7 linked regions of the Homo sapiens genome follow. The gene in region 4 interacts genetically with the main gene of each other region. Each region holds a gene or a part of one and is shown on either strand. Other genes may lie near its edges.

Region 1 (3,016 bases), on a different chromosome or scaffold from region 4:
GTGGGCGTGGGTCAGAGGCCCTGAACTGGAGGAAGGGGCCACGAGCCAAGGAGAGTGGGGGCCTCCAGAAGTGGGGAGGAGCGGGGAAGCGGCTTCTCCCCCAGGAACTCTGACGTGGCCCAGATTTCAATGCAGACTTGAATGGGGCCTCTAACCGTGAGAGGATAACCGTCATTTTAAAGAGAAAGACACGTGTCTGGCCTACGTCACAAGATGGCTCTTGCCACACAGTACGCTCCCTGATGTGGGGTCTGCGCCACAGGGCTGGGGGCACTGCCTGGGAGAAAAGGACCGAGACCTTTGCACACTCGACGTGCCAGGCCCCCTGTGGCCACAGTGCCTGCCTGGAGAGCACCCGGGACGCAGAGCTGCTGGTGGCCCTGGGGACAGCAGGGGGGACCCGGGCAACGTCCCCCCACCCCCCAGAGCTCTGCTCTGACCGATGCCCCCCTGAGGTGGGGTGGGCAGTTTCCTTAAAGACACAGCCGCCAGCCGCGGAGTCTGCGCGTGTTGTTTACTGTTGGTCACTCTCTGCTCTTAGCTTCACATTACCATTTCGTGTTTTGTCAAAGTCCGTCTCAATTCGCGTTTGGTAAAATAAATAGATAATGAGCCTCTAGGCCGGCGCTCTCTCGAGCCGGTTAACGTCGTGATTGAATTTTCACATCAGACCTGTGAAGACAGCCCACGTGCAGGCGGCACGCGGTGCCCATGGGGGTGGGCTCCAGGGTGGAGCGGGGGCGGGGGGGGGTCTTGACCCCTCTGGAGCCACCTGCCTTTTGACAGGTGGTGATTTTGTCTCAAAACAAACAGAAACGCGTGTTGGGTAAGAATTGAGTTGAAGGACTGGATGGGAAGCTGCGTGTGCGGGTGGAGCTGGGCTTCTGGAAGATTCTGGTGTTGCCGCCTGGCACGCCCTGTGAGCTGAGTGAGGCCGGGACTCTCTACACCTTCCGGACCCGGGCTGCTTTCTCGGCCCAGACGTGGGGATGGGATTCGTGCCGGAACCTTCTTCTGGTGGGAGCTCGCATTCCAAAAAGGAGCAGCGGAGGGGCCGCCTCTGTCCTGCCTTGTCACGTCCCGGCCAGCCCCAGCTCAGTCTCCAGCTCAGCCCCCTGAGGGCCAGGTGTGTCTCTGGCCAAATGTGACCAGGCAGGGTTCCATCCACCCAGAAGATGCTCTTGGCCACGGCAGGCCACCAGCCACACCGCAGGAGAGCCGGGCCTCGCCACACCAGCTCTCACTCCCGTGGTCGTGGGCCTCTCACCGCCAGAATGAAGCCACCTGGCTCCTTCACCTCTCAATAATCCTGATTCCCGACGAACACGGAAAGAACACTTTTCAAAATACCATCATTGTGGTTGTGTTCTGTTTGCAAAACTGCTCATACACGCCCTGCGGCCCCTCCTGGGCGGGACTGTCCACACAGCTCCTGTCTGCACCACAGGCCCAGCTGTCAGCCGAGGTCGCATCAGCATGGGCGGCTCAAGGCTGGAGACGGGGCTGGTGTCACCCGGAGCCGTCCGGGACCCGGCAGTGCCTCTTGCCTGTATGTGAGGAACGTGTGGGGACAGAGCAGGGAGACCACGCCGCCTGCATGTGTGTGCCCCCAGGTGCCGGCCGTGGTGCCATCTGCACATGCGTGTGCTACACCTGTGTGAGGGCACAGGCATGGAGACCACAGGTCGGGCTGCTGTCCCCGCGCCTGTGGGGAAGAGCAGCCCTTCGGAGGGAAAGGAGCCCCGTGGATTAAGGCAGGGGCTACCTCGCCAAGGACCTGCCTCCCCTGTGCACCGCCACAGCGGCCCCTGCTGACAGCTCTGTGTGAGAGGGGCCAAAACTGGAGTCCAGAGACCTGGAGGTGCGGGGAGGGTGGGCTGTGCGCTTCCTGCTCAGTGATGCTGCCAGCGGCCAAGGACAGCCCGGACCCCTGGGCGGCTTCCTTCACACCCGCCAGTTGGAGGGGCGTCTCCTTCTTCCTCTCTCTTGGTTTCCCGAATTTCCAGTGTCCCCCAGCTGGCTAGGAAATGTCCCTGCTTGCGTGCACTGACTGTGAGAGGTGGTGGGCCTGGCTGGGGCAGCGCCTCTCGCTCGCTCTTGGCCTGATGGGGACAGCTGCCCCAGGGACCCGTAGGAGCCCCAGCGCCTGCCTCTCCGCCAGGGCTCTGTCGGGGGGTTTTTCTGCAGCTAATGCTCTGATTACATGGAAATAAAGTGAGGTGTTTCCCCTTTCAGCGTCTCAGAGAAACACAGAACAGGAGAGGGACAGAGGCGCCGTGGCCGCGGGGGTGCACCTGGATGCTGGTGCTCAGTGGGAAGCCACCGTCAACCCGAGCCCTCCCCTTCCCTGACATTCCAGACACGACAGCGAAGACAGACAAAAGCGAGTAGCAGGGCCCTCCTGCCGTCATCAGCAGCTAAGGCAGCAGCCAACGTTCACACTGCGGGGCCGCAGCAGCCGACGCCCCGTGCCCCGGCGAGTGACAGCTTCACTATGTACAGCAGGCGGCCGTGGCCTGGTGGGCCCGGGTCACGCCGCTATCTGACACGCTTCTCCACCGAGTACACGGAGATGTAGTAGTCGTTGCTTCCCACGGCCAGGTGAGGCTGCAAGGAGAGAGAAGGGGTGAGCAGGGGTTCAGGTGCGGGCAGACACTGCGGGGGGCGGGGGGGCGCAGGCCAACCCGCATCCTTAGGCAGCTCCTGCCGGGGTCTCAGGAACCCCCACGCCCACCTCAGGCCCGGAAATGCCGGGCCGGTCCCACCAGTCCTCTGCAGGGCCCATGCATGGTGCACTCCGTGAGGGGCGTGGCGCTGCCCCGGGCCCTGCGTGGTTTTTTCAGGACTGCCCCACGGGGCAGCTCTGGGATCCAATGTCACACGTGTCAGCAGAGCTACATGCCTGGAGCCTCACAACACAAGGCGGCAGGTGGGCAGAATCCTAATCTAAAAACAACGGCCTGAAGCCACGTGGGGAGGCTGCAACCAAGGCCAGAGAGCCGTGCAGGTGGGGCCC
Region 2 (3,500 bases), on a different chromosome or scaffold from region 4:
CTCATAGTAGTTGGTGAGGTTCTGCTCAATGAAGTGGAAGGTACGGACACTGAGGGTCTCAGAAACCAGGCCTGGCCGGAAGGAGGCAGCTCGGTTGAAGGCCATGAAGAAAGCCAAGGCCCACATATAATAGGTCTCATCATGCTGCTGAGCTTTCTCCCGAAGCAGGTGATCCTGACATTTAAAAAAGAAAAAAAAAGATCACCATGACTCCAGGGCTTCCAACTTCTTCCTTCCTGTCCTATGATGATGGAATGGATGCTGGACACCGTCATAATTTTTTTTTTTTTGAGGCGGAGTCTCACTCTATTGCCCAGGCTGGAGTGCAATGGCATGATCTCGGCTCACCGCAACTTCCACCTCCTGGGTTCAAGCGATTCTCCTGCCTCAGCCTCCTGGGTAGCTGGGATTATAGGTGCCCGCCACCACGCCCAGTTAATTTTTTGTATTTTCAGTAGAGATGGGGTTTCACCATGTTGCAGGCTGGTCTCAAACTCCTGACCTCAGGTGATCCACCTGCCTTGGACTCCCAAAGTGCTGGTATTACAGGCGTGAGCCACTGCGCCTGGTCTTTTTTTTTTTTTTTTTTTTTTTTGACAGTCTTGCACTGTCATGATGAGGCTGGAGTGCACTGGTCTGATCTCGGCTCACTGCAACCTCTGCCTCCCAGGTTCAAGTGATTATCCTGCCTCAGGCTCCTGAGTAACTGGGACTACAAATGCACACCACCATGCCGGCTAATTTTTTTTTTTTTTTGTATTTTTTTTTTTAGTAGAGATACGGTTTCACCATATTGGCCAGGTTGGTCTTGAACTCCTGACCTCAAGTGATCCACTGCCTCAGCCTCTCAAAGCGCTGGGATTACAGGTGTGAGCCACCACGCCGGGACACCGCTATAATACTCTAGGATCCACAATTTCCAACTCTCTCCTGTTCTCCCTTTCCTCTCCCTCTGAGGCAATTTTTCCAGAGCCTCTTTTGTCATGCCAGGAGCCCACTCGTTCCTGGCATTTTCACTATCTCTCAGGGACATCCTAACTGTATATCCTTCCCACCTACGAGTCCACATTCCAGGGGCAGCCTCCCCGAGCTCCTCCCCACTTCTTACCCACCAACAGCTGCATCATCACCTGTCTATTCCATTCCTGATTATCTCCATATCCTTCACAGGTTCTCACCTTTACTGATCCCATGAGCCGGTTGTAACAGTTCTCCAGGAACTCAGAGCAGAAGTCTCTGAGGAAGAGCCTCACATTGAGGGCAGAACGGCGCTGAATGGACAGCTCTCGGGCGGCCTGGCGACGTTTAGGCACCTTTTTCGGCTGCTTTCCCAAATCTGAACTGTAGTTTCGTAGCTGGGTGTGTCGGTTGGGGGATTAGAATTACTCCTAAATACCACTTTCCCCTTGCAGCTCTCGTCAATTTTCTCAGAAGAAACTAATTTTTGTTTTTCTTTTGAGACAAGAACTTGCTCTGTCACCCAGGCTGGAGTGTAATGATGCAATCATAGCACACTGGAGCCTTGAACTCCTGGGCTCAAGGAATCCTCCCACCTCAGCCTCCCGAGTAGTCAGGACCACAGGCGGGTGCCACCATGCTCAGTTAGTATTTTTCACTTGTTGTAGGGACAGGGTTTTGCCATGTTGCCCAGGCTGGTCTCGAACTCCTGGGCTCAAGCAATTCTCCTTCCTTAGCTTCTCAAAGTGTTAAGATTACAGGCATGAGCCATTGTACCCAACCTTTAATTTAATTTTTTTTTTAGAGACAGGGTCTTGCCATGTTGCCCAGTCTGATCTTGAACTTCTGGGCTCAAGCAATCCTCCTGCCTCAGCCTCCCAAAGTGCTGGGACCACAAGTGTGAGCCACCAGGCACAGCCAAGAACTCTTAAGATGATTACCCTGCTTAAGCTATGCAACTCCACTATGTTCCCACTCCAGATGTAAGAATACTCACGTTGTGAAGGCCTTTGTGAAAGATGAGGTCCCTCTCCCCAATGGATTTCAACCCCTGGACAATATAGGAGCCCCCAAATCGAGAATGCCTGCAGAAACAAAAAGGTCCAAGGTGATTTTTCAGTTCTCTGGAAACTTTATCTCCATTCTCTATCATCGGCACATTGGAGCAAGTTAAAACTACAAAATGTTGGTCGGGCACGGTGGCTCACGCCTATAATCCCAGCACTTTGGGAGGCTGAGGCAGGCGGATCACCTGAGGTCGGGAGTTTGAGACCAGCCTGGCCAACATGGTGAAACCCTGTCTCTACTAAAAATACAAAAATTAGCCTGGCATGGTGGCATGCGCCTGTAGTCCCAGCTACTGGGGAGGCTGAGGCAGGAGAATCGCTTGAACCCAGGAGACAGAGGTTGCAGTGAGCAGAGATCGTGCCAGTGCACTCCAGCCTGGGCGACAAGAGCAAAATTCTGTCTCAAAAAAAAAAAAAAAAAACACTAAAATGTTGTTCAATCACCCCACCTTAGAATTTGCCTTCTATGCCCTCAGCATTCCATGATGTAGGAAAAAGAACCTGCCTCTCTGTCACTCACCTGTTGCCTCGCTGGAGGGCTCGAGTCTTCTTTTCTGCCATCTCTCGCTGGCGCAACACCTCCAGTTCTGCAAAATCTGCACTCCGCTCCTGAGCTAAGCGTCCCTGCCCTACTCCCGCCAGCTGCTCGGGGTTCTAGATTGGAACAAAGAGGGAAGAATCAGGAGGACAGTCATTCCTTATCCTGAGTTCACGCCTACTGGGGATGCAAAGAGTGAACAAAATAGAACCCCATTAATGGGGCATTGTGCTGTCGTTCTCCCTTATCTGAGGGGGAAATGTTCTAAGACACCCACTGGATGCCTGAAACTGCAGACAGTACTGAAATATATATATGTATATATTCATATATACATATATATATTTGTATGTGTATACACATATACATAGAACATGTACGTTCTATGTTTTATAGAATGTATATATGTGCTATATATATAGTTATCAGAAAACAGAACATGTATACATATATATATACGCACATACACATATTCTATTATGTTTTTTCAATTTGATAACTAAGATGGCTAGTACATGACTAACAGGCGGGTATACACTGTGGATATGCTGGGCAGAGGGATGATTCACATCTTGTTTAGGACAAACAGGGACAAAAGATTTCATCACACTACTCAGAACAATGTACAAGTTTAAAACTTCTAAAATGTTTATTTCTGAAATTTTCCACTTAATATTTTCAGACCATGGTTGACTGTGAGTAACTGAAATCAAGGAAAGAAAACCATGAATAAGGGGGTACTACTGAACTCAAGACATGGCTACTCCTGCTGTCGCCTGCCTTCCCCAGATAATGCAGCCATTATCACAAGAGCAATTCTGGCTGTACAGCAGAAAAGTACATGGGCGGAGGGGACTCGGGCAATAGGCCAGGGTCTCACCTGGTCACGAAACATAAGGGAGACAATCTCTAGCACATGTAGGCTCCATTGCTCCTCA
Region 3 (3,500 bases), on a different chromosome or scaffold from region 4:
CGCCCGGCCTAGTTTGTGCTTTTTACTTACCAGTTAGGGGTTATATTACTGTGTAACAAAATGGACGGTTATTTCTATTCATTAACAAGATTCAAGTAATAGCCTCTTTAGCCACATATTCCTTAATAACACCTTTAGACCTTATAGGGGTAATTATTTTCTATATACTTTTCCAATGTATTTGAAAGTTTGTTGGCTCTTCTTCCGTAATTATACTATATCCTCAGTAAAGAAAGTTTGGCATACAGAAAAGTTGAAGGAAGAAAATTTTCAATCACTGTTGTTCCACTACCAAGAAATAATACTTGGAGGTATTTCCTTTCAATCTTCAACATGAGGATGCTAATGTCCCCCTCATAAGGGGCCTTAAAGTCACTGACTCTGTGCACTATTTCATGAGAACATTGATGTGGGTATTTAACCGAAAGAAAACTTGAGTTTTCTTTTTTTCCTTTTTATTGTGAAAATTTGGAAACTTATTCAAAAAGTAGAATAGTTAACTAATTGATGTACCCATCAGCAAGCTTCAGTGATTACCACCATTTAATTTTGTCTGCACCCCCCCACCCACTGCCACCCCAGCCCATTCCCAGCATGTGCCTCTGAAAGAGACCAACTTTGTCCTTTAAAAACAACCACAGTTGGCTGGGCACGGTGGCTCATGCCTGTAATCCCAGTACTTTGGGAAGCAAAGGCGGGTGGATCACCTGAGGTTGAGAGTTCGAGACTGGCCTGACCAACATGGAGAAACCCGTCTCTACTAAAAATACCAAAGTTAGCCGGGCGTGGTGGCGGGTGCCTGTAATCCCAGCTACTCGGGAGGCTGAGGTAGGAGAATCGTGTGAATCTGGGAGGCGGAGGTTGCAGTGAGCCGAGATCACGCCACTGCACTCCAGCCTGGGCAACAAGAGTTGTCTCAAAAAACAAAAAAGAAAGAAAGAAAAAAACAACCACAGTTTCATCAGCACAGCAAAAAGGTTTTTGTTTTTGCTCTTGGATTTTGTCGTTTGGTTTTTGCTTAATATCAAATATCCAGTCAGTGTAAACTCGTTTATAATTTGGTCCTTTGATTTCAAGGAGCTATGATGCAGTTCGTTGTGGGGATGTGTTGTCTCCATGTCATACATGTGACTTTGTCCATGTTTGCACCCAGTTCAAGGAAGACACAACCCTAGGGAAAGACAACCCTCCCCGCCAAGCCTCTCTTCCCATTCTTAAACATAGGGTGGCGTTATTCAGGTTGGACCAGTTTAAAAAGACTAACGCATTTGTCCTCGTTGTTGGGTGTTTTTTTTCTTTAAATTTGTAAAACAGGAATAATTGTGTTAGGATGAAGTATGATACTAGGAGAACAGGGAAAACTAACCCATCGTGTTAAAAGTCAGAATAGTGCTTAACTCTGGCAGGAGGTGAGATGGTTAGTAATTCAGAAGGGGGTGCCAGGAGAGCTTCCAGAGCCATTGAAATGTTCAGTAGCTTGATCTGGGTGATGATTTACATACATAAAAACATATTAAACTTTGAACTTAAGATTTATGCCTTTTACTGTTTGCACCCTATAACTCCAAAAGAAAAGTAGAGGGGAAAAAGAGTCCCTGCAAAAGGCAGTCTTGAAAGAAAGCAAGTCTGTGATGTGGAGAATGCATTGGACAGCTCTCAGCAATTTGCTGTAGCTTGGGCAGAGAGATAAAAGCTAATGCCAGCATCAGGTTGCCCAGGCGAGAGAAGGCCTGAAAGAAGACAGCGTGGAGAAAGTGTCAGCAAGCTTCAGCAACAGCAGGAGGCAGATGGTAGGAGAGTGGGCCTCAGGTGTGGTGTGGCAGAGCAGAGTAGCCACACTTAGGCCCCAGAGACAGTGTCTTCTCACCCTCAGTTGAAGGGGCAGGAAATCAATCGCTCTAGTCACCCCTAAGCTGGAGGACGGACCTAAAGTTGCCACAGCTTTGAGAGGCAAAGAAGTTTGCTCAGTGGCTTTTAGAGACTTCTAGGGCCCTGGGACCCTGACACTGAGGAGGAGCAAACTGAAGGGGAGAGTGGGCACATTCCTTGTTGGCTGCTGTGGTGAGCAGCAGCTGGTCGTTGTCAGTCAAGCTCCGGACCACTCTGATGATGCTCACTGCATTTTGATGGAGTAAGCCAGGGACATTACCACTGTGTTTGAGCCATCTGAAGTATTCCTGGGTGGGTCTGCAGTTGGCAGCCCGTGATCCTTTTTCCATTCAAGGATGATGCAAAGGTAAGGGGCCAAGGCTGAGCTCTGTAGATGCCTGTGAGAGCCTCCTGGTCTCAAGAGGTCATACCAAGGGCCTTGGCCACCAAGGTTTCGTGAGGACCTTGAGGTGGTTTCGCCATCACAATGTCAGACGTGTCACACACCATCTGGTATGTCCTCACTGTATAGAGGAAGAAGGGCCCAAGTGGTGAATTATCTACAAGTTTGTAGCAAAGCTAATACTCAGACTCCCTCTACAGCCTTGCTACTCAGTGTAGTCTGTGGTCCGGCAGTGTCACACCACTGGGGTACTTAGCAGAAATGCAGCTTCTCAGGCTCCACTCCAGCTCTCCTCAATCACAGTCTGTTTTTTTGTTTGTTTGTTTGTTTGTTTTGAGATGGAGTTTCGCTCTTGTTGCCTAGGCTGGAGAGCAGTGGTGCGATCTTGGCTCACTGCAACCTCCACCTCCCTGGTTCAAGTGATTCTGCTGCCTCAGCCTCCCAAGTAGCTGGGATTACAGGCGCCCGCCACCATGCCCGGTGGCGTGCATGGTAATTTTTGTATTTTTAGTAGAAACAGGATCTCGCCATGTTGGCCAGGCTGGTCTTGAACTCCTGACCTCAGGTGATCCACCCGCCTTGGCCTCCCAAAGTACTGGGGATTACAGATGTGAGCCACCACGCCTGGCCCACAGTCTGTATTTTAACAAGATCCCCACCTCAGTCTTAGGCACATGGATTCTCCTCAACCCCCAATACCACAGAGTCTATTAATTTTTACCCAATAGGGAAGGGGAAAAAGTCAAGAAAGAATAATGAATTAAGTAATCTTTCCCCCTCCAGGAAGCTCTTTATTTAATTTCGCTCCCATGAAACACAATTTGAAGAGTCTCTCAAATAAACAAATTCCATTTTCTGATAATTATTTAATTGCCCCACTTTTGAAATTTTTGTCAAAGACGACTGTCACTCCCTGTCAGAACTTCTATTCAGCACAGTATACCAAGCGTTTCTCCATCGAGTTGTTATAATATGATCAAAAAGCAGGGAGAGATGCTGCTTGGTTACCCTGTGGGGCCTTATCGGGGCTCAGTGCAGTCTTTCCATGTAGGCATTCTCAAATACTCAATTGAAACCTGATTGAGGATCATTTGATCTCTGTTGGCCCTAGTGCAGTAGGCTGCTGAGAACCACTGATGCAATAGACTGAGAGACTAACTGCCTGCTTCCCTGTCAGCCCAGGCTCTGCTAAGGCCGTCTTAGTTACAGAAGAAAGTGGGGCAGAGAG
Region 4 (3,500 bases):
TTTAAAATAGAAGTGATTTTTTTTTGGTAGAAGAAATAGAGCATCTCACAAAATACCGTAAGTATTAAAAGCACAGACCTAAACAAAGCTAGACTTTTTTGAGGTTATGATCACGAATTTCAGACATGTCTAAATTACCTCTCTTGCTGCCAGAAGCTGCTGTACAACAGCAGAGCTCACTGTATTAGGAATTGTCAAAATCTTCTCCAAAATCACTTTTAAGAGATCTCGAACACCCTGATATAAGAAAAAAGACATGGGTTAAAATTAAGTAGTGTCTACTGTGTTAGCTAAAACGTCCGAAGGTTTCAGGGTGATATATTCCTTCAAGGTCACACCTTTAAATTTTCTGAATCAGTTACAATCTAAGTCCCTAACATTAACCCAACAGAAGAGTCATGTTCCAAAACAGAGTTCTAAAGACTGTCTTAAAATACAATGAGCAAAGAAAGTCATTATACAGTTTGTCAAGCTTTTTTGGCCCTCATAACATTAGAAGGGTTTACGTTGTTACAAGGGTCAAAAACCTTAATTATACATATAGACAGAAATATATTGTAACAAGACTTCAATGCACTCTGAAAACTTGAGTAACAATATCAAACTTTTTGGTAGAGGACTGTTTCTGCTCACTCCCTTTTGTGCTGGGATTATAGGTGTAAGCCACTGTGACTGGCCTATTCTCCCTTCTCATCCATCACATACCTTAATCTCTCAAGGATATCCAAGGCTATTCTGTTAATCATTTCCACATATCCAATACCAGTTACATTATCTGATATATAAAGAAGAAATTTCATTCAACATTTATTTATTGACTATGAACTACGTAACCAAGCTTGTAAAAGACAGAACATATACCTAAAAGAACAATTATGAAGTATCATACAAATAAGAAAATTGCATAAGTCTGAGTAAAGAGAAAATAATTAGCAAAAGCTTCTTAGAGTTAACTGTGTGATAAATCATGATTTAAACTAATAATTATCTGTTAGGTCATTACCTGTTAAATCATTTCAGATTAGAGAAAATGCAGAAATAAAGCACAGGGTCAGACACTGGTAATTCCCGGGAAAAGGACAATAACAAAAGTCTCCTGAAGATGCAGAATGGCTTTTGTAGCTATGGAGTCCCTAAGCCGTTTTATGAGACAAAACTAGAAAGTGTATGTTGTTTTTGGTCAAGAGCCCAAAGTGCTGAAGATATTAATTGAGGTAAGACCCACGTTCAAGAGAAGTGAAGCCAGGTCTTGCTCCCTTCATCAGTGATGCCTACATCCCTTCTCAGTTCCACACACCCCTGCTCTGTGCTTTCATTTGAAGGGATCATAATACTTGCAGCATGAAGGAACACGGATTCTGCTTTGTGACTTCCCTGCTCTTCATAAAAATGTATCAGCTACCTGTATTTATAAGAATGTTGGGAGGGGAGTAGCGGAGCCAGGGAAACAACTGAGTAACTTTAAATCTTTTCAGGAAATATACCACAAGAAATAGACAGATTTTGTAAATGCTTCCACATCATTTCTCTCACCTGAAAATAAGACATGCACACCGAAAAATCAATCATATCTGAAAGCAATCACTTTTTATAATAAGAAAAATATACCTTGTAATCCACTCCCCCAATTATTTTCCGAACCAGTTTAAATGTTAAGGCCCAAAGCTGTGTTCTTTCCCACTCAAGAGTGTCAGAGTTTATCAGGGATTCACAAACCAGCCTATAAAAAAAGAAATAGCCATTCCAGTTACAAGACAGAATTTTCCAAGTTCTCTAATAGCCGCCAATATGGTTTGGCTGTGTACTCACACAAATCTCATCTTGAATTGTAGTTCCCATAATCCCCACGTGTCATGAGAAAAACCATTTAAATCATGAGGGACAGTTCCCCCAATACTGTTCTCATGATAGTGAGTTAGTTCTCACAAGATCTAATGGTTTTATATGGGGATTCCCCCTTCACTGGGCACTCATTCTCTCTCCCACCACCCTGTGATGAGGTGCCTTTTGCCATTATTCTAAGTTTCCTGAGGCCTCCCTAGCCATGCCAAACTGTGAGTCAATTAAACCTCTTTCCTTTATAAGTTACCCAGTCTCGGGTATATCTTTGTTAGCAGCATCAGACAGACTAATACAGCCATAGTCTGTGCACTGTATTATATTTATCCTCACAAGTGTCTTTCATAAAAGTGATTACTAAGCACACTTATAAATCTGTGTAGTATTTTACATTTTTTACTTGTATGAAAGATCAAAAACAAAGTAAGAATGAAATAATATTCATTATGTTATATTTTACTAGAAAGAAGTCTATCTAAAGCTTTCGGTTAGATGTTTACCATCTATCACCTTGTGGTACACTGGATTTTTCCAACAGGATGGCAACAAGATTTTTGATCCCACATCTTCTTCTGAAATGTGACACTGACATTTCTCCCAAGGAGAGGTAGGGGGAAAGTCTACGTTCTCACTCCTTAGATCTGGGCAGACCTAAGACTATGGCCAAAAGGATGCAGTATGACTTCCAAGAAGACAAGGTGATACAATTTCTGCCTAGCCCTCTTTTGCACACTTGCTGTTAGGCTCCACCATGAGGTGAGAAAGTCTAGGCCACAAGGTGAGGGCCTGCGGAGGTTCTGGCTAATAATCCCAGCTGAGGTTCCAGATGACAGCCAGGAATCAACCACCAGATATCTGAGTGGGGAAGCTTTTGCCATGCTCCAGCCCTAGCCACATTGATCACAATCATTATGACCTTGAGTAAAAAGTGTCTCCTAAGCCGAGTCAACCACTAAAACCATGAATAATTTTAAAACCTGAGTATTACTGTTTTAAGCCATAAGGTGTTGAGGTTGTGCAGCAAAAGTAAAGGGTTACAAACTAATTAAAGTGATTAATTTCAGCCCCTGGGCAGAAACATCTGGTTTTGAGCCCACAAGCATTACCTAATTCAAAGACTATTACTCCTAGAAACTAAAACCTGAGGTATTATATAAAGGATTACTTGATAAACCTCACCTTCTTCTTCATTCTCTTACCTTTTTACAACAACAACCTCAACCAATTTCCAATCACATATAGAAAAGAAAATTCTTCAGATTGCTCATACCCATTAAACGTACCTGGGTGGAAGGAGACCAGTCTCAACTGCCATTGCTAAGCAGTCATAAAGAAAAGAAATTCTTTTAGGACTATGCTGACCATGAATAAACTTAACAATCCACTGGATACACTGTTCATGAGACTCCTGGAAAATGAGAGAATGATTTTACTTGGGGTCTAAAGTTACATTTTTATAACCAATAGCTAATACTACAACTGGAAGTATACCAATACTATGAAAGAAATACTTCACTATGAGCATCTGTGGATGAAAATAATTTTTAAAAAAAGCAAAATTAAAAAATTCAGATTTAGTATTTGTCACATTAAGCTTAACATTTTGTAATTACATAGATAAAATGCTACCATTTTTATTACATGGGAACTTCAAAAGTAGT
Region 5 (3,500 bases), on a different chromosome or scaffold from region 4:
TGATTTGGCAGCGGGAGGGACAGCACCCTGCGATTTGTCTGTCTTCAGGGGCCTAGCGCAGTTCTTTTCTCTTAAAGGACACTTGTCATCTCTCATTAAGATTCCAAGTGAATCAGCTTTGAGAGAAGAACGATCTTTAGGAGTTTGTGGCGAGGGAGTAGATGGCAGCACATGTTAAGAGAAGGATGGGGGAAGGGGGAGGAGGAGGAGGGGGGAGGAGGGGAGGAAGAGGAGGGGGTGAGGAGGAGGAGGGGGAGGAGAAGGCGGAGGAGGAGGGTAGGGGGAGGTGGAGGAGGAGAGGTGGGGGAGGAGGAGGAGGAGGAGGACAGCGAGAATATCTTCTGGTCCTAGAAGCTTGGCAGCCTTTCTTCGGCATCTTGTTCTGCCGAGTGACTGTCATTCTGGGCAGATCCCCATGTGAGAACATTGGGTACCTACAGAATGGAACCGGTGTCATAAGCAACTCTTTGTTCGGGTTATTGCTCCCTTGAGTGCTCTAAGGCCTCCAGACAGTCTCCATGGAAAAGTCTGCAAAAAGCCGCCCTCCCTGCCCATAGAAGGTGAAGTGTCATCAACCTGCCAAATATAATTTTATGTAAAAGGACAAGAAGTCTCATAGTCTTAATGGGATTACATGGCAAAAGTGCCAGAATCATGGCAAATGGTAAAAAGGAAGCATTTTGTAAAATCCCACGGAGGCATGTTTACCAGTTTGTGAAAGAGGGGTGGCTAGGCAGGGCGCAGTGGCTCACACCTGTAATCCCAGTACTTTGGGAGGCTGAGGCAGGCATATCACCTGAGGTCAGGAGTTCGAGACCAGCCTGGCTAACCGATGAAACCCCATCTCTACTAAAAATACAAAAATTGGCCTGGCACAGTGGCTCATGCCTGTAATCCCAAAGGCCAAGGCGGGCGAATCATGAGGTCAGGAGATCGAGACCATCCTGGCTAACATGGTGAAACCCCGTCTCTACTAAAAATATAAAAAATTAGCCGGGCGTGGTGGCACGTGTCTGTAGTCCCAGCTACTCAGGAGGCTGAGGCAGGAGAATCGCTTTAATCCGGGAGGCAGAGGTTGCAGGGAGCCAAGATCGTGCCATTGCACTCCAGCCTGGGCAACAGAGCGAGACTCTGTTTCAAAAAAGAAAAAAGAGGAGTGGCTAATCTCTGATCTGAACAGGCCAGCACTGCCCTGTCTTGTCATAGGCTGCAGCCTCACTTGTTTACATTCTTTCTTTTTTGAGACAGAGTCTCACTCTGTTGCCCACGCTGGAGTGCAGTGGAATGATTTTGGGTCACTGCAACCTCCACCTCCCGGATTCAAGCAATTCTCCTGCCTCAGCCTCCCAAGTAGCTGGGATTACAGGCATGTGCCACCACACCTGGCTAAATTTTGTATTTTCAGTAGAGGTTTTGCCATGTTGGCCAAACCTCCTGACCTCAAGTGATCCTCCCGCCTCAGCCTCCCAAAGTGCTGGGATTACAGACGTGAGCCACTAAGCCACTACGCCCGGCCAACATCCTCACTTGTTTGCAGTATTGAATCTTTTCCTATACCCTTGTGACCACAGAAAAATTCAAGTTTTCTGGGCTCTCTGAAAAATCAGAATGGACTTTGACATGAGGTGGTTTTATTTTCTCTTACTAGTAATTGAGAAATTCACAGAAAATACCAGATTCTGCCTCATCTGTAACTATCTGTCAAAGATCATCCCTGCCTTGCAGTCCCGCTGCACGAGGTTTCGGTTCGGTCCCCTGACTCCTGAACTCATGGTTCCCCGCCTGGAACATGTCGTGGAAGAAGAGAAGTGAGTATTTTGCGGGCCTTTGGGGATGGAGTGTAGTAGAAACAGGCTTGTGGGATCACTGGCTGGTTCGTATGTAGAGGAGAGGAATGTTGGAAAACGACTTTGCAGAGTGCCTAGCACAGGGGAGGCACTGGGGACCGTCCACTGCTATCATTTTCTCTGCTGTCTCAAGGCCATTCCTCATAAAAGTCATTTGGTACTTCATTTTTCTTGATTCCATCCTCCTCCCCTGGAAGCTGTCCCAATTTCCTCCTACTCTTCTTTGTCATTGGAAACTGCAGGCTGCTGAGTCCCTTCTGCAAAGATGCTTCCAGCCTTTTTAGACTAGAAGGGAAGGTTCTAAGACATCACATTCTGTGTAGTCAGATGCCAAGCAAGTAGCCGACCTGAGCAGCTGCTTGTTGTGAAGGAGGAGTTTCGGCTGTGTGATCATGGCTTGTGCCAGGCCTCTGTCCTCCCCAGAGAGCAGAATTCAAGACGACTGGCTCCATGGGAGAATGCTTGTTCCTAAATTCAGGCTGTTCTCGATTTTGGTTGGCTGTGACTACTAATGTGAAGCCCAGGTCCCTAAAAACCAGAGTGAATTCTAGATCATATAGATCAGGAGATTATTAACTCTGTTCCTCTCCTTCCTTCATCCCTTTAAAGCCTTAATCATTCCAGGCCATCTTGTTCCTTTGGTGAATGCTGGTGCTCTCAGGGGGCCTCATAAATCCCTTTTGCTTATTTCTTTCAGAGTTGATATAAGTGAAGATGGAATGAAAGCACTAGTCACTCTTTCCAGTGGAGACATGCGTAGGGCTCTGAACATTTTGCAGGTATGGTCTCAAGCAAATCCTTTTTTTTTTTTTTTTTTGAGACAGAGTCTTGCTCTGTCGCTCAGGCTGGAGTGCAGCAACACAATCTCAGCTCACTGCAACCTCCGCCTCCTGGGTTCAAGCGAATCTCCTGCCTCCTGAGCAGCTGGGATTACAGGTGCCCGCCACCACGCCCTACTAATTTTTGTATTTTTAGTAGAGATGGGGTTTCGCCATGTTGGTTAGGCTGGTCTCGAACTCCTGACCTCAAATGATCCATCTGCCTCAGCTTCCTAAAGTGCTGGGATTACAGGCATGAGCCACCATGCCCAGCCTGGTCCCAGCAAATCCTGAGTCATTGTTTTGTAATAGTTTTTGAAGAAAGACCTAAGCAAAGGCATGATCAATCTGTAAATTTTGAAATCTACAGCTGGTAAGACCTTGGTCTCATAACCTGCAGGATTCCCCCTCCTCACTTTGTATTTTGATTAATTGAAAAAATCACTTGTTGCAGGCCAGGTATGGTGGCTCACGCCTGTAATCCCAGCACTTAGGGATGCCGAGGGAGGTGGATTGCCTGAGCCCACGAGCTGGAGACCAGCCTGGGCAACATAGTGAGACTCTGTCTCCACTAAAAAATCATGAGCCAGGTGTGGCGGTGCACACCTGTAGTCCCATCTACTCAGGAGGCTGAGGCAGGAGGGTGACTTGAGCCTAGGAGGTCGAGGCTACAGTGAGCCATGATCATGCCACTGCACTTCAGCCTGAGCAACAGAGCAAGACCCTGTCTCAAAAAACAAAGAGAGAGCAAAAGAAAATGTTTTAAAAACAAAAGGAATCATTTGTTGCAAAGAAGGCAAAGGGAGGGAAGGATTTGGCACTGGAATAGCCAACA
Region 6 (3,500 bases), about 25 Mb from region 4:
GTGAAACCCTGTGTCTACTAAAAATATAAAAAGTGGCCGGGTGTGGTGGTGGGCGCCTGTAATCCCAGCTACTCTGGAGGCTGAGGTGGGAGACTATGGCTTGAACTGGGGAGGCAGAGGTTGCAGTGAGCCAAGATCGCGCCACCCACTGCATTCCAGCCTGGGCAACAGAGGAAGACCCTGTCTCAAAAAAAAAAAAAAGAAAAAAAAAGAAAAAAGGAGAAGAGAAGGAGGCAGCAAAGGAGTCTTTTCTTTTTTTTTTTTTTGAGATAGAGTTTCGCTCCTGTTGCCCAGGCTGGAGTGCAATGGCTTCGGCTCACTGCAGCCTCCGCCTCCCAGGTTCAAGTGATTCTCCTGCCTCAACCTCCTGAGTAGCTAGGATTACAGATGCCTGCCATCGTGCCCAGCTATTTTTTTTTTTTGAGACGTCTCACTCTTGTTGTCCAGGCTGGAGTGCAATGGCGCAATCTCAGCTCACTGCAACCTCTGCCTCCCGGGTTCAAGCGGTTCTCGTGCCTCATCCTACTGAGTAGCTGGGATTACAGGCACGTGCCACCACATTCAGCTAATTTTTGTATTAGTAGTAGAGACAGGGTTTCTCCATGTTGGTCAGGCTGGTCTCGAACTCCCGACCTCAGGTGATCCACCCACCTCGGCCTCCCAAAGTGCTGGGATTACAGGCATGAGCCACCGTGTCCGGCCAGCAGAGGAGTCTTGAGAAGCAGCAGCCACAGGAGAGACAGGAAGAAAACCAAGAGTAAGGTGTCTTGGCGACCAAGTGAAGAAGAGAGGCGTGATCGGTTTTTTCAAGTGCTGCTGAGGAGTCAATTAAGATGAGGACTAACATGACCTTTTGGATTTAGAAAATGAAAGGAGTGGAATTGAGGAGAGTTAGACAACTGTTTTGAGAAGTTTTATGGTAAAGAGGAGCAAGAAAAGAGGTGGTAGCTGGGGAGGAGTGGAGGCAAGAGGTTTGTGTAATTGCTTGCTTTTGAATGAGACAAAAGTAACAGCATCCTCTCCTTTACTATAGCCACCCCCACGTTGATTCATTTCCTCACATATGCCAAGTGCCTGGCTAGGCCTTGGTAAAACACGCAATTCTTGTCATCAGGGAACTGCCATTTAAGTGGAATGTGGGCAAGTAAACTGACTGCCAGGGCACACATGTAAAAGCAGGTCCAGGGGAGGTTGAACCCTGCATCAGCTGGAGCTCAGAGCAAGAATGCCTGAGCTGGGTGCAGTGGATCACGCCTGTAATTCCAGCACTTTGGGAGGCCGAGGCAGGCGGATTACAAGGTTAGGAGTTCGAGACCAGCCTGGCCAACATAGTGAAACCCCATCTCTGCTAAAGATGCAAAAATTAGCCAGGCGTGGTGCCGTGTGCCTGTAGTCCCAGTTACTGGGGAGGCTGAGGCGGGAGAATTGCTTGAACCCAGGAGGCGGAGGTTGCAGTGAGCTGAGCACTGCACACCAGCCCGGGTGACAGTGCAAGACTCCATCTCAAAAAAATAAAAAAATGCCTGAGCATCCTTGAATGCTCATCCTCATTCATCCTTGAATGAGAGAAAAATAACAGCATGCCAATGGACTGGTCCATTATCAAGCAAAAAAATCACTGTTGTAACTTGATATTTCCCCATAGCTCGGTTTCAGGCCACCTTTGCTCTCAGAACTTTGTAGGCATCCTTGCTCTGCGCTCCAGCTGGTGCAGGGTTCAGCCTCCCCGGACCTGCTTTCACATCTGTGCCCTGGCAGTCAGTTTACTTGTCCACATTCCACTTAAATGGCAGTTCCCTGGTGACAAGGACTGTGTGTTTTATACCAAGGCCTACCCAGGAACTTGGCATATGTGGGCGAACGAGTGATTGTAGGGGTGGCTATAGTAATGGGCAGGATGCTCATTTCATTTCTAGAAATTGAATCTGCAACCATTCACTGGTTTTGGTATGTCCTGAGCAGAGGAGTGAAGAACAGGGCACTGTGTAGTCCCTATCACTACACTTAGAGTTTGGGAGATAATTTGTGACTTAATTCAAAAGTAACAAAAAAATGTGTAGTGTTGGTGCAACCAGAGTATGGAAAAGGGCATGTGGGGCATGGCTTGGTAGAGGAGGATGTGACTCGTGTGGAGTCTGGAGGAAGAGGAGACCATGACAAAGGGACAGGAATTTTTCAGTAGTAGATTTTTTTTTTTTTTCAAGTGAGCTATAAGGAACCCAGTATTCTCCAGTGCTGCTTTGGCTTGAGAGGAGCTGGGTGCCTGGTTAGCTTTCTTCTCTGGCACCCCCACTTCCAACTCAGGGCTCCCCTGACCAGTTTCAAAGTCCTGAGGCAGGGCCGGGCACGGTGGCTCACGCCTGTAATCCCAGCACTTTGGGAGGCTGAGCTGGGCAGATCACGAGGTCAGGAGATCAAGACCATCCTAGCTAACATGGTGAAACCCCGTCTCTACCAAAGATACAAAAAATTAGCCGGGCGTGGTGGCGGGTGCCTGTACTCCCAGCTACTTGGGAGGCTGAGGCAGGAGAATGGCAGGAACCTGGGAGGCAGAGCTTGCAGTGAGCTGAGATTGTACCAATGCACTCCAGCCTGGGCGACAGAACAAGACTCCGTCTCAAAAATAATAATAATAATAACAAAGTTCTGAGGCAGAATCTGGGTCCTCCCTTGTGACCCTGAGTGCCCACTGCTAACAACTACAAATGGTCATCATCTCCAGCAAGAATTAGCTTAATGTGTTTCCTCAATTTTATGTTTTTAATGAATTTTATCTAAGCTTCCAACATTTGCCAATGTTTGCCTGCTAGAAAGTTAAGCTGATCACAATGAGAGGTAGTGAGTAGCTAATAAACACAAGGGAATACGTGGCTTGACATTTTGGTATGTTTGTTGAATTTACAAGTGCACCTGATTCTAAATAGTTATTTTCTGCAAGGAAAGGTTTCCTAATGCAGGTAGCAGAGAGCCACATCATATCTAGGCATTCCTCAAAGTAAACAACGGTACGGTATAAAGCTAGGACTTTTCTCAAAGTCAGGAAAAGAGTGTAAAAAAGATACTGAAAAACATAAAAATAGAACTTATGGATGGGGAGTGTGGGCACCCAGGGTCTGACACAGAAACAGGACTACTTCCCTTCCCTAGGTGTCTCCTCTTAGGATATTTTCTAAGTTGGGGCAACAGTTCCTCCCACTCTTCTACCCCTGAAAACTATCTGTTCTCTCTGGTATTGCACTGGTTGGTGAGTTTTTATTCCAGAAAAAAAAAAGGAAAATAGATGTCAGGGTGTGGAAGAAAGAGTGCTTAACTTGGAGTCAGAACACTGATGGACAGTTCAGCATGGTAGTAATGAGTCTAGGCTTTGCAGCTCGGATGCCTAGATTTGAAGAGTATCTGTGTGACCCTATAACTGAGATGGGCTTGTCGCAAGGAACAAATGAGTTAACGTGTAGAGCAATGCCTGGCCCACGGTGAAAACAATGAGCTTTAAGGAGACT
Region 7 (3,500 bases), about 43 Mb from region 4:
AGAACACCTAGGAAATTCATCACAAAAAGATCATTACCTAGGCACATAGTTATCAGGTTATCTAAAGTCAAGATGAAGGACAGAAACTTAAGAGCTGTGACACAATAGCCTCAGATAACCTATAAGGGAAAACCTAACAGATTAACAGCTGATTTCTCAGCAGAAACCTTACAAGCCAGAAGGGATTGGGGTCCCATCTTTAGTTTCCTGAAACAAAATAACTGTCAGCCAAGAATTTTGTATTCAGCAAAACTAGGCTTCATAAATGAAGGAGAGATAGTCTTTCTCAGATAAACAAATGCTGAGAGAATTGGCCACTACAAGAAATGAAAGACACACTACAAGAAATGCTAAAAGGAGTTCTAAACCTTGAAATAAAACCTCAAAATACACCAAAATAGAACATCCTTAAAGCATAAATTTCACAGGGCCTATAAAACGATAACAGAATTTTTTTAAAAAAAGGTATTTAGGCAACAACTAGCATTATGAATAGAACAGTACCTTATCTCAATACTGTATTAACATTGAATAGAAATGGCCCAAATGCTCCTTTTAAAAGACACAGAATGGCAGAATGGATAACAACCCACAAACCAAGTATCTGCTGCCTTCAAGAGACTCACCTAATGCATAAGGACTCACATAAACTTAAGGTAAAGGGGTAGAAAAAGATATTCTACACAACTGGAAATCAAAAGCGGGCAGGAATAGCTATTCTTATGTCAGACAAAACAAACTTTAAAGGAATAACAGTTCAAAAAGACAGAGAAGGACATTATATAATGAAAAAAAGGATTCGTCCAACAGGAAAATATCACAATCCTATATATGCACCTAACCCTGGAGCTCCAAAATTTGTAAAGCAATTACTACTAGAGACCTAAGAAATGAAATACACAGCAACACAACAATAGTGGGGGACTTCAATACTCCACTGACAGCACTAGACAGGTCATCAAGAGAGAAAGTCAACAAAAAAAGAATAGAGTTAAATATACCCTAGAACAAATGGACTTAACAGATATTTAGTCTCAATAAATTTAAGATAATTGAAATTCTATCTAGTATCCTCTCATACCACAGTGGAATAAAACTGAAAATTAGCTCCAAAAGGAACCCTCAAAGCTATACAAATACACGACCAGGCGTGGTGGCTCATGCCTGTAATCCCAACACTTTAGGAAGCTGAGGTGGGTGGATCACCTGAGGTCAGGAGTTCAAGACCAGCCTGGCCAACATGATAAAACCATGCCTCTACTAAAAATACAAAAATTAGCCAGCCATGTACTAAAAATACATGGTGGCACGGGCTTGTAATCCCAGCTACTAGGGAGGCTGAGGCAGGAGAATTGTTTGAACCTGGGAGGCAGAGGTTGCAATGAGCTGAGATCGTACCATTGCATTCCAGCCTGGGTGACAGAGCAAGACTCCATCTCAGAAAAAATAAATAAATAAAAATTAAAACTATACAAATACATGGAAATTAAAATTTCTGCTCTTGAATAATCTTTGGGTCAACAATGAAATAAAGATGGAAATTTAAAAATTTTTTGAACTGAATGATAACAGTGACACAACCTATCAAAACCTCTGAGACACAGCAAAAGCAGTGCTAAGAGGAAAGTTCATAGCATTAAATACCTACATCACCAGGCGTGGTGGCTCATGCCTGCAATCCTAGCACTTTGGGAGGCCAAGGCGGGCAAATCACAAGGTCAGGAGTTCGAGACCAGCCTGGCCAACATGGTGAAATCCTGTCTCTACTAAAAATACAAAAAATTAGCCAGGCATGGTGGCGGGCGCCTGTAATCCTAGCTGCTCAGGAGGCTGAGGCAGCAGAATCGCTTGAACAGAAGAGGCGGAGGTTGCAGTGAGCCAAGATCGTACCACTGCACTCCAGCCCAGGTGACAGAGTGAGACTCATCTCAAAAAAAAAAAAAAAAAACCCACACCAAAACATCTGAAGGAGCACAAACAGAAAATCTAAGGTCACACTTCAAGGAACTAGAGAAACAAGAATAAACTGAACCCAAACCCAGCAGAAGAAAAGAAGTAACAAACATCAGAGCAGAACTAAACTGTAACAAACAAACAAAAAATACCAAACATCCACAAAAGATTAACAAAACACTGGTTCTGGATGTGGTGCAGTGGCTCACGTCTGTAATCCCAGCACTTTGGAAGGCCAAGGGAGGCAGATCATTTGAGGTCAGGAGTTTGAGCCTGACCAACATGGTGAAATCCCATCTCTACTAAAAATACAAAAAAATTAGCCGGGTGTGGTGGCGGGCCACCTGTAGTCCCAGCTACTTGGGAGGCTGAGGCAGGAGAATCACTTGAACCTAGGAGGCAGAGGTTGCAGTGAGCCAAGATGGCATCACTGCACTCCAGCCTGGGTGACAGAGCGAGACTCTGTCTCAAAAAAAAAAAAAAAAAAAAAAAAGCTGGTTCTTTGAAAATATAAACACAATTGATAGACCATTAGCAAGATTAACCAAGAAAAGAAGAAGATTCAAGTAAGTTCAACTAGAAACAAAACAGGAGATATTACAACCGATACAACAAAAATATAAAAGATCATTCAATAGTACTATGAATACTTTATATGCACAAACTAGAAAATCTAGAGGAGATGGATAAATTCCTGGAAATATACAACCCTCCTAGATTAAATCAGGAAGAAAGAGAAACTCTGAACAGACTAATAACAAGTAGCAAGACTGAAACAGTCATAAAAAAACTGCCAAGAAAAAAGTCCAAGAAAACAAAAATAAATTAATTAAATTAAAATTTAAAAATTTTAAGTGCAGGACCAGATGGATTCACAGCTGAATTCTACCAGTCAAAGAAGAATTGCTACCAATCTTACTGAAACTATTCCAAAAGACAGAGAAAGGGAATCCTCCCTAAATCATTCTATGAAGCCAGTATCACTCTAATACCAAAACCAGGAAACAATATAACAATAAAGAAAACTAGAGACCAATATCCCTGATGAACATAGATGCAAAAATCCTCAACAAAATGCCAGCTAACCAAATCCAAAAGCATATCAAAAAGGTAATACACCATGATCAAGTGAGTTTCATACCAGAGATGCAGAGATGGTTTACCATACACAAGTCAATAAATGTTGGCCAGGCGTGGTGGCTCTTGCCTGTAATCCCAGCACTTCAGGAGGCCGAGGTGGGTGAATCATTTGAGGTCAGGAGTTCAAGACCAGCCTGGCCAACGTGGTGAAACCCCGCTTCTATTAAAAATACAAAAATTAGCCAGACGTGGTGGCAGGTAGTCCCAGCTACTCAGGAGGCTGAGGCAGGAGAATCACTTGAACCCGGGAGGCAGAGGTTGCAATGAGCTGAGATGGTGCCACCGCACTCCAGACTGGGTGACAGAGCAAGACTCTGTCTCAAAAATAACTAAATAAAATAAAAATAAATGTGATACGTCACATAAACAGAATTAAAAACAAAAATCACATGATCATCTCAATAGAT

What was found.
Region 1: changes in MED23 (region 4) and RPTOR together harm fitness more than expected from each alone (negative genetic interaction), as found in Homo sapiens cells (one large-scale study listed by BioGRID).
Region 2: changes in MED23 (region 4) and TIMELESS together harm fitness more than expected from each alone (negative genetic interaction), as found in Homo sapiens cells (one large-scale study listed by BioGRID).
Region 3: changes in MED23 (region 4) and SCO1 together harm fitness more than expected from each alone (negative genetic interaction), as found in Homo sapiens cells (one large-scale study listed by BioGRID).
Region 5: changes in MED23 (region 4) and RFC5 together harm fitness more than expected from each alone (negative genetic interaction), as found in Homo sapiens cells (one large-scale study listed by BioGRID).
Region 6: changes in MED23 (region 4) and MTRES1 together harm fitness more than expected from each alone (negative genetic interaction), as found in Homo sapiens cells (one large-scale study listed by BioGRID).
Region 7: changes in MED23 (region 4) and RNGTT together harm fitness more than expected from each alone (negative genetic interaction), as found in Homo sapiens cells (one large-scale study listed by BioGRID).

Annotation. Positions count from the first base shown.
Region 1 is NC_000017.11:80,963,853-80,966,868, reverse strand, and holds the end of RPTOR (regulatory-associated protein of mTOR), read right to left. Parts: intron 2,608-3,016; coding exon 2,539-2,607; 3' UTR 501-2,538; downstream 1-500. UniProt on the Homo sapiens protein: Component of the mechanistic target of rapamycin complex 1 (mTORC1), an evolutionarily conserved central nutrient sensor that stimulates anabolic reactions and macromolecule biosynthesis to promote cellular biomass generation and growth.
Region 2 is NC_000012.12:56,428,927-56,432,426, forward strand, and holds part of TIMELESS (protein timeless homolog), read right to left. Parts: coding exon 3,443-3,500; intron 2,679-3,442; coding exon 2,545-2,678; intron 2,043-2,544; coding exon 1,955-2,042; intron 1,356-1,954; coding exon 1,179-1,355; intron 175-1,178; coding exon 1-174. UniProt on the Homo sapiens protein: Plays an important role in the control of DNA replication, maintenance of replication fork stability, maintenance of genome stability throughout normal DNA replication, DNA repair and in the regulation of the circadian clock.
Region 3 is NC_000017.11:10,673,534-10,677,033, reverse strand, and holds part of SCO1 (protein SCO1 homolog, mitochondrial), read left to right. Parts: 3' UTR 1-3,500. UniProt on the Homo sapiens protein: Copper metallochaperone essential for the maturation of cytochrome c oxidase subunit II (MT-CO2/COX2). Not required for the synthesis of MT-CO2/COX2 but plays a crucial role in stabilizing MT-CO2/COX2 during its subsequent maturation.
Region 4 is NC_000006.12:131,621,743-131,625,242, forward strand, and holds part of MED23 (mediator of RNA polymerase II transcription subunit 23), read right to left. Parts: intron 3,248-3,500; coding exon 3,123-3,247; intron 1,721-3,122; coding exon 1,609-1,720; intron 238-1,608; coding exon 139-237; intron 1-138. UniProt on the Homo sapiens protein: Required for transcriptional activation subsequent to the assembly of the pre-initiation complex. Component of the Mediator complex, a coactivator involved in the regulated transcription of nearly all RNA polymerase II-dependent genes.
Region 5 is NC_000012.12:118,023,203-118,026,702, forward strand, and holds part of RFC5 (replication factor C subunit 5), read left to right. Parts: intron 1-1,648; coding exon 1,649-1,808; exon of another isoform or gene 1,809-1,812; intron 1,813-2,544; coding exon 2,545-2,626; intron 2,627-3,500. UniProt on the Homo sapiens protein: Subunit of the replication factor C (RFC) complex which acts during elongation of primed DNA templates by DNA polymerases delta and epsilon, and is necessary for ATP-dependent loading of proliferating cell nuclear antigen (PCNA) onto primed DNA.
Region 6 is NC_000006.12:107,031,199-107,034,698, forward strand, and holds part of MTRES1 (mitochondrial transcription rescue factor 1), read left to right. Parts: intron 1-3,500. UniProt on the Homo sapiens protein: Mitochondrial RNA-binding protein involved in mitochondrial transcription regulation. Functions as a protective factor to maintain proper mitochondrial RNA level during stress.
Region 7 is NC_000006.12:88,953,619-88,957,118, forward strand, and holds part of RNGTT (mRNA-capping enzyme), read right to left. Parts: intron 1-3,500.